Linked DNA regions of Homo sapiens. The protein of the gene in region 1 purifies or fractionates together with the protein of each later gene. This does not show direct contact. Each region holds a gene or a part of one and is shown on either strand. Other genes may lie near its edges.

Region 1 (4,564 bases):
CCAGGCACTGTGCTAAGGGCTTCTCTAACACACATGGGGATGGGAGTCTTTAATGCAGCTCCTCTCCCGGGATCCTGGGGGTGGGTCCTCCCCCTCTAAGCCCTAGAGAGCCCTCCAGCCTCGTTCTCCACATGCCCGACCTGGAGTGGGTGGGAAGAGGGAGAGGGTGGTGTGCGAGGAGGCAGCAGGTCACAAAGGGGTTACAAGCTCAGAGGGAAGGGGGATGGGAACTGGAAGAAAGTGTCACCCAGACCAGGGGTAGAAGAACTTGACTTTGGGGAGACTGAGAAAGACCACATGTAAGAGAGAGAGACATGGAAAATGAGGTAGAAACAGACAGAAACAAAGAAAGGCACAAAAATTAAGAGGCAGAGGAAAGGTGAAAATAGCCAGGAGACAGAAACTGCAGGATGAGAGAAATGAATAGAGAGAGACAGAGAGACTAAGACAGCAAAAGGCAGGAAGGAAAAACAGAAAATGAGAAGGTGTGAGAGAGAGAGAGATGGAGAGGTGGAGAACAGAGAGACTGAAATGAGAAAGAGACCTCTCGGAGAGAGACCGAGAGGAAGAGGCTGGCAGAGGGAGAGGGTCAGAGACCAAAGACAGAGACAAAAAGAGAAATAGGGTTTTGCAAAGACTGACTGACAGAAACAGATTTCGAGGGGAGAGAGATCAAGACCAAGTGAGGGTTTGAAGGAGACTTAGGGGAGGTGGAGGAAGAGAAGGAGAGTCTTAGATCCAGGGTGAGGGGCTTCTAGCAGGAAGAGGGAAGACGCCAAGACCGCGCTTGGGAGGTCAGTGGTGCGTCTCTACCCCCCCTGCTCCCCCACTCCAACTCCCAGAGTCTCAAGGCCTCACGTCACACCCCCGTCCCGTCCCGTCGACAAGGGGAACCCCGGCCTGGGAGAGGGCGCCTCCGGGGATCCGTTGCCTAGTCCAGGTACTGCCCAGCTACCGGGCGTCGAGGATTGCGAAGCGTCGGGGCAGGCTGGCACGGTGCCCACTTTTCCCAAAACGCCAGCCTTCCAAGCCCAGAAGCTCGCCCGGCCCAGGCCGGGAGCGGCCCACGTCGGACGGCCGGACCGCCCTGCAGGACCCAGCCCGGCCGCCCGCCCCCGCCGCCGGCGGTGAGGGAGGTGAGCGGCGCCGACCTGCGGGACGAGCATCACTCCGACCCAGCCGGGGGTGAGGCGGGTCAGGATGCTCCGGTCGCAGGAGGAAAAGGAGGAGCTGGACCAAAAGCCCGAAGAGAAGAAAAGGGGAAGGCCGCGCACGGAGCGCGGTAAAGGCCGGCGGAGCTAGACGCCCCGAGGTCGGAGTGAAGCGCCGGGACCGAGCCCCGTCTCCCAGGGAGTCCGGGGCGCACGGCACCGAGGAGAGCGCGGGAGCCAACCTGGGCGCATCATGCGCAGGGCCCGGGACGCTGGGCCGGTCTACACCGCCGCCTGGGTCACGTGGCCCGGACGGGCCGGCGGCTGCCCCGGCCGGGGGGCGGGGGTCGCGCCGGGGTTGCGCTGGACGACGGAGAGCGGCGGGCCCGCAGCGGCCTGGAGCCTCCCAACCCGCGCGCCGCGCTGGCCCCCGAGCGTAGGAGCCGCCCCCTGCCCCCCCGCGCCGGCCCCGCGCCCGGCCGCCCGCCCCCTATATAGCGCGCCCCAGCAGGGCCCGCGCCAGGCCGCCAGCCTCGGAGTGGGCGCGGGACAGTGCGCGGCGCCCCGCAGCCAGGCCCCCGCCCCCGCCGCATCCACCTCCTCCGCCGCCTGCGACCCAACGGGCGCCCCCCGCCGCGGCAGCTGCCGCCGGGCCCCCGCGGCCACCATGAAGAAGGAGGTGTGCTCCGTGGCCTTCCTCAAGGCCGTGTTCGCAGAGTTCTTGGCCACCCTCATCTTCGTCTTCTTTGGCCTGGGCTCGGCCCTCAAGTGGCCGTCGGCGCTGCCTACCATCCTGCAGATCGCGCTGGCGTTTGGCCTGGCCATAGGCACGCTGGCCCAGGCCCTGGGACCCGTGAGCGGCGGCCACATCAACCCCGCCATCACCCTGGCCCTCTTGGTGGGCAACCAGATCTCGCTGCTCCGGGCTTTCTTCTACGTGGCGGCCCAGCTGGTGGGCGCCATTGCCGGGGCTGGCATCCTCTACGGTGTGGCACCGCTCAATGCCCGGGGCAATCTGGCCGTCAACGCGGTGAGTGCCCTGGGGGGGGGGTGGGAGCCTCGACCCTGGGGTGGGCTCAGGACCAGGCCTCTTACCCCACCTGGAAAAAAGGGGTGCCGCAGAGTGGGCCAGCCCACACCCTTCACCAGGAAGGCAAGAGCCTCCCAAGGCCAGGAAGGCAACTCTCCAGGCTGATATGTGCTCCCTTCCTGCCCACCTCCTCTCCCCCTCCCCTCATGCTGGCCCACCCTGGTCTCTCTCCAATGCCTGCTACCCCTCCTCTCCTGCCAGAAACTTCTGCCTCCTCCTGTCTCACCTTTGAGCTCCACCTTCCTCCTGGGCCCCTCACCTCTCCCATCACCTCAGTGGAGCGGTTGAGTAGAACCACCAGAGAAAAGCGGGCTGTCATCACGGCTTTGGGTGACCCTGGCCTGTCTGTGCTTCATTGTTCTCAGCGCCTCCATGGGGATGGTTGTGTCTGCCACAGCAGGTGTCAAGGGGCTCACATTTAGAAACCGTAGATAGGAACCCCCTAATGTGGGGCCAGTGCAGAGCAGTTTCTGTTGAGTATTGGTTCCCTCTTTCCCCAACCTGTGCTCCTCCCCTCAACCCCGCACCCCTGCCTCCCTCCCACCTCCTGCAGCCCCAGAGTCAGCCCCCAACCCCATGCAAACTGGGTTCATTAATCAAACACAGAGGAGGATTTGCTTGGCCATTGTCAAGCTGTGAGTCAGCCGCACTGGAGAGACGGGTTTAAGGCTGGCACTGGCATGGGGCCAGGCACGGGCAGGAGGCCGGGATGGGGTGTGAGGCAGGCAAACCGGGCAGCTGCCCACAGGATGGAGGGTAAATGCCAGCTTATGGGGGCTGGGGGTTGGGCAGAGCCATTGATAGGCCCGTGTCCAGGAAAAGCTACCCTGACGCTCTGCCCTTTGGCCACAGGCCTGAGCTTCAAGCCTGTGCAAACTATGAAATGTACAGTGTCTTTAACAAATGGCTTCGCTGGGGCGATGTCCACAGGACTTGGCTTCCAGGTGCCAAGGTGCTCTAAGTGTCCCTGGAGGCCAAAAGCCCTACTCCCCGAGCCCCTGGCTATACAGCCAGAAGGTGGCCGGGGTCCTAACCCGCTATCCCCTTGCAGCTCAACAACAACACAACGCAGGGCCAGGCCATGGTGGTGGAGCTGATTCTGACCTTCCAGCTGGCACTCTGCATCTTCGCCTCCACTGACTCCCGCCGCACCAGCCCTGTGGGCTCCCCAGCCCTGTCCATTGGCCTGTCTGTCACCCTGGGCCACCTTGTCGGAGTGAGCAGTACCGACATTGGGCTGGGGTGAGGGTGGGGCAGGCACTCAAGGCAAATAATGGAGCCCTGGAGCGGAGCCCACTTCAGATGGATGAGTCCAGCAGAGTTTAAGGCCTGGATTTAGGGCTCCTGGACTCTGGCCCTACTGGGCCCCAGAATTGATCCCCCCAAAACCTCTGGGCTGAGGAAAGATGGGAGTAAGTAGGAGGTGGGATGGGACAGGAATCAAACCCAACCTCAGAGCAGAGAAGAGAGGAGGGCGTAGTTAAGGGTCCATGGTTAACCAAGCAGCTGGGATCCTTGGAGGGAGAGGTTGCCAGCCTGAGTTTGAGACCTGGCTGAGCCCCTGGACTGCAGTGTAACCTTGAGAGAGTCCAGATTCTGTGGGAGTGGACCAGGATGTTGCCTTTCTCTCCACCGCCCTGTCTCTATCCAGATCTACTTCACTGGCTGCTCCATGAACCCAGCCCGCTCTTTTGGCCCTGCGGTGGTCATGAATCGGTTCAGCCCCGCTCACTGGGTGAGTCTGTCCCTTCCCCTGGCTCCCTGGAGATGAGGGCCTGGAGACCCAGCAGTGGCAGCTCAGAGCTCACCAGACCTGGATTCTGTGGGTCTAGAGCTTGGGGGTGGGCCACGGAGTGGTGGCTGACAGAGAAAGGGACACAGTAGGGGATGGGATTCAGCTAGAGGGGCAGAGGTGGCTTTGTATGGCCTGAACCGCTGGGGACAGGGAGTCTGAGTATCTATCCGCTTATGGAAGAGGCTCTACTGAACCTGGAGGTGCAGAGGGGCTCTGTGTCAATTCCCTTGAGGATTTGGTGTCCGTCCCCCTCGGTGTCTGCGTGCTGGTCCTCTCTGATGTTTTATTTATCTGTCCCTGTTGAGGGGGTTGGGAGAGTCTTCCTGTGGGTCTGTCCCTGTGGACAGTCTGTCTGCCCCCCCTTTGGAAGCTCATGGTCACTCTCTCCAGGGTCTGCTTCTATCCCTGCGTGGAGGGGACACGCGCTCTGTTCATCCGTCTCTCTGAGGACCCACGTGTCCCCTCTGAAGGTTTATTTGCTTCTCTTTCCGGTGTGGTTGGAGGGAGCCTGTCCCTCTGGGAATCTGT
Region 2 (3,802 bases), on another chromosome or scaffold:
CTTCAAGGCAGGACAGGAGAACATCTCCGTGTCTAAGGTAGGGGGTCAGGACACACACCAGGTATGTTTTGGGGGTGTCTCCAAAGCCTCTTGCTGGCCCCAGCTTTCCTTCTCACATGATGTGGCTGCCTTGGGGGTTTCAGTGCCGCCTTCACCTGATCCTCCACTCCCTTCCCTCCCATGCTGACACTGAATTCTTGTCTCTTCTGGCAGCGGGACACAGCTGGTGATGCCTCTGAGTCAGCTCTGCTCAAGTGCATTGAGCTCTCCTGTGGCTCAGTGAGGAAAATGAGAGACAGAAACCCCAAGGTGGCAGAGATTCCTTTCAACTCTACCAACAAGTACCAGGTCTGCTTGGGTTGCCAGGACAGAGGAAGAGAGAGGGATATAAATGGGTGAGGGTGGACAAAGCCAAGGGGAATCATCACTAGCAGGAGTGGGGGTGTCTGAGGGTCATGTTCCCTCCCCCTGCTAAGTCCCCCAGGACAGCTCATATGACTGCATGTCTGATTGCAACTAGCCCCAGCTCCCAAACCTTACTCCATCCCTTACTACAATCTGTCACTCTCTCAACTCTTCTTCCCATAGCTCCGCATCCTCTGGCCTAGCCTTCCAACTCTTCTACCCCAGTCAGTGAAACCATAATTCTGTAATTCCTTTATGGTGCCCCTTAGCCTTTAGGCACCTGTTAAATGCCAAGAATGCAATCTCAGCATTCCTTATTATCCATAGAGGTAAAGCCCCCTGAGGCCAGGTGGTGGTGGGGATGCTGAGGAGGGAGCCGTTCAGCCCCTAGCACAGTGCCTGTCTTAACCTGACCTCAATAAATATTTGTTGAATGAAAGACTGTCCTACGGAGGTGGCTCTCAGGTTACAAGTGTTGGAACTGTGAGGTCTAAACACCCCCCTGCACAAGGAGATTCTCTTTGTTGACAATCTTTGATGGGTTGGGGCTACTTTTCTAAGGTGGTTTCCTTACCAGCTGCTGCTCTATGCCGCGCTACCAAGACAAGTATGGCCCTCTCTGTAACTACCTGTTGTCTCTCCAGCTGTCTATCCACGAGCGAGAAGACAGCCCCCAGAGCCACGTGCTGGTGATGAAGGGGGCCCCAGAGCGCATTCTGGACCGGTGCTCCACCATCCTGGTGCAGGGCAAGGAGATCCCGCTCGACAAGGAGATGCAAGATGCCTTTCAAAATGCCTACATGGAGCTGGGGGGACTTGGGGAGCGTGTGCTGGGTGAGAGGCCAGAAACAGGAGGCTCAGAAGGGGATTCCCAAGCCTCTGCGGCATCCCTGGGGTGGGGGACTGTGGGGGCGTCCAGGAAGCCACTCTGCGGATCTCACTGATCCCTTCTGCCCCCCTTTAGGATTCTGTCAACTGAATCTGCCATCTGGAAAGTTTCCTCGGGGCTTCAAATTCGACACGGATGAGCTGAACTTTCCCACGGAGAAGCTTTGCTTTGTGGGGCTCATGTCTATGATTGACCCTCCCCGGGCTGCTGTGCCAGATGCTGTGGGCAAGTGCCGAAGCGCAGGCATCAAGGTACTGGCCTCCCATCCTCCCCTCCATTCTAGCCTCCCCCATGCCAGAGTTCAAGGAGCTGCAGTGGCTGCTGCCCTGGAAAGGCCCAGGCCACGGTGGCCTCCTTCCCACTGACTCAGAGAAGAAGCTGTCCATCTGCAAGGAAAGGCCCACCCCTGCCTTGGGGCACTCACCCTTATCCCTTTTGCTCAGAGAGGCCAGTGTCCCATGCCCCTCCTCTCCCTCCCTGGCACAGCTCTTTGTCCCATCTGCATGTGTACCCTTCCATTCTGATTTGAAGCATAATCTGGCACTCCTATCTTGAAGACCTAGTTGTCCTACCCTTCCCAACTACTGCCCACCCTCTCTGTCAACTTAGGATGGGATTAGCAGGCTCTTGTATGCTCCCAGTGGCTCAGCCCATAACCCCACAGAATGCCTCCCACTCAAGGTTCTCTTGTTCAACTACAATTGCTTCTCACTGACCACTCCCTCCTCTGTGCTATGTTTGTTCTTCATTCAACAAATATTTACTGTTTACTATGTTTCAGACACTGTGCAAGGTGCAAACTCTAGCACCTTGCACAGTGCCTGATACATAGTAAACAATTTGTGTCACATGACACATCTAGATGGGACAATGAGCTGTGCCAGGGAGGACACATATAAATCAGGCACTATTCTAAGCACTAAACCTCTATGATTTCATTTAATCTACGCAACAACCCTGTGAATAAGCACCAGTATTTTTCCTTTTTTACAAAGAGGGAAACTGAGGCACAAAGTAACATGCCAAGGCCACACAGCTAGTGTAAGTCATAGAGCAGGTACTTGAACCAAGGCAGTCTGCTATTTCTTAACTATCATACCAGGAGACTTGTTTCTGTGGGTGTATGTGGTTTCTGAACCCCATAACCACTCTGTCTCCGAGGCAGGCATCATTATCCCTGTTAAAAGTAAAACAAGGCTGGGCACAGTGGCTCATGCCTGTAATCCCAGCACTTTGGGGGGGTCCAAGGCTGGTGGATCACCTGAGATAAGGAGTCCAAGACCAGCCTGGCCAACATGGTGAAACCCCGTCTCTACTGAAAAAAAAATACAAAAATTAGCCACGTGTAGTGGCAGGTGCCTGTAATCCCAGCTCCTTGGGAGGCTGAGGCAGGAGAATCACTTGAACCCGGGAGGCAGAGGTTGCAGTGAGCCGAGATTAGGCCACTGCACTCCAGCCTAGGCGACAAGAGCAAGACTCCATCTCAAAAAAAAAAAAAAAGTAAAACAAATGGAAACTGCAAGTGGGTAAGTCTTTTCCCCAAAATAAAACCACCAGTAAGTGATGGACTGGGACTATGAAGCATGATCTGCTTGACCGGAAAGCCTGAGCTCCTGCTGCTTGGCCAGGTGCCTCTCTCTGTGATCAGAACCATCACGGAGGCCTGGGCAGAGGACCTCTATGGGAAGTCAGCTCAGGGAAGCATTAATTCTGCCTCAGAGAACTGGACGATGTTTGACAAAAGGAATGATATTTGAGCTGGGCTTTGGAGGTCAAAGAGTATTCTGCAAAGCAGTGAGGGAGAGGAAGGCATGTCAAGATCAGGGAACAGTGTGTACCCTGGCGTGGCTAGACTGTACGGAGCGTGTGTAGGGGTTGGCAGGGGAGAGGTGGCAAGGAGTACTGGGGGTTGAGACTGGAACACTGGGTCAGAGCCAGTTGGAAGGACTTGGCTTAAATGCCAGACTTGGGCTTTATCCTGCAGGCCACAGAGAGCCATCAGTGTCACGGGGGAGGTTGAGCTTTTAGGAGACTACCTGGTTTGAGGAGGGACTGGATTTGGGGAAGAACTGGAGTCAGGGAGAGACAGGTTAAGAGGCCATTGCCATAGTTCAGGCAAAGAATGATGACCTGAACTAGGGCAGAAACAAAGGGAATGGAGAGGAATAGCCATGTCTGAGAAATGTTTTGAGAACTTGGTGACCAAACTGGATATGGAAGGTGAGGAAGATACAGGAGAGAAGGGGACAGGATGAATAGAGAGGACAACATCTAAGGTAGGGAGCAGTAGCAGGCTTGGTGGGGTGGCAGGAGTAGAGAAAAGGAGTTCAATGTTGACCTTAAGCTTAAAGAGTCTATAAGATACCCCAGGAAAGACAGATGTTCCAGTGAACATTGGAGTATGGTTTAGAGCTCATGAAAGATGGTCAGGACTGGAGATTTGAATCTCATTAGCACAAGGGTGCAAACTAAAGGCTTATAGTATGTTGTATTATATTGCCCAGAAAG

Evidence for each region.
Region 2: the proteins of AQP5 (region 1) and ATP1A2 purify together in Homo sapiens (affinity purification with mass spectrometry; one large-scale study listed by BioGRID and IntAct). This does not show direct contact.

What each region holds. Positions count from the first base shown.
Region 1 is NC_000012.12:49,960,200-49,964,763, forward strand, and holds the start of AQP5 (aquaporin-5), read left to right. Parts: upstream 1-1,672; 5' UTR 1,673-1,818; coding exon 1,819-2,181; intron 2,182-2,467; exon of another isoform or gene 2,468-2,725; intron 2,726-3,292; coding exon 3,293-3,457; intron 3,458-3,892; coding exon 3,893-3,976; intron 3,977-4,302; exon of another isoform or gene 4,303-4,426; coding exon of another isoform or gene 4,427-4,483; exon of another isoform or gene 4,484-4,564. UniProt on the Homo sapiens protein: Aquaporins form homotetrameric transmembrane channels, with each monomer independently mediating water transport across the plasma membrane along its osmotic gradient. Plays an important role in fluid secretion in salivary glands.
Region 2 is NC_000001.11:160,129,053-160,132,854, forward strand, and holds part of ATP1A2 (sodium/potassium-transporting ATPase subunit alpha-2 precursor), read left to right. Parts: coding exon 1-37; intron 38-213; coding exon 214-348; intron 349-1,049; coding exon 1,050-1,239; intron 1,240-1,369; coding exon 1,370-1,545; intron 1,546-3,802. UniProt on the Homo sapiens protein: This is the catalytic component of the active enzyme, which catalyzes the hydrolysis of ATP coupled with the exchange of sodium and potassium ions across the plasma membrane.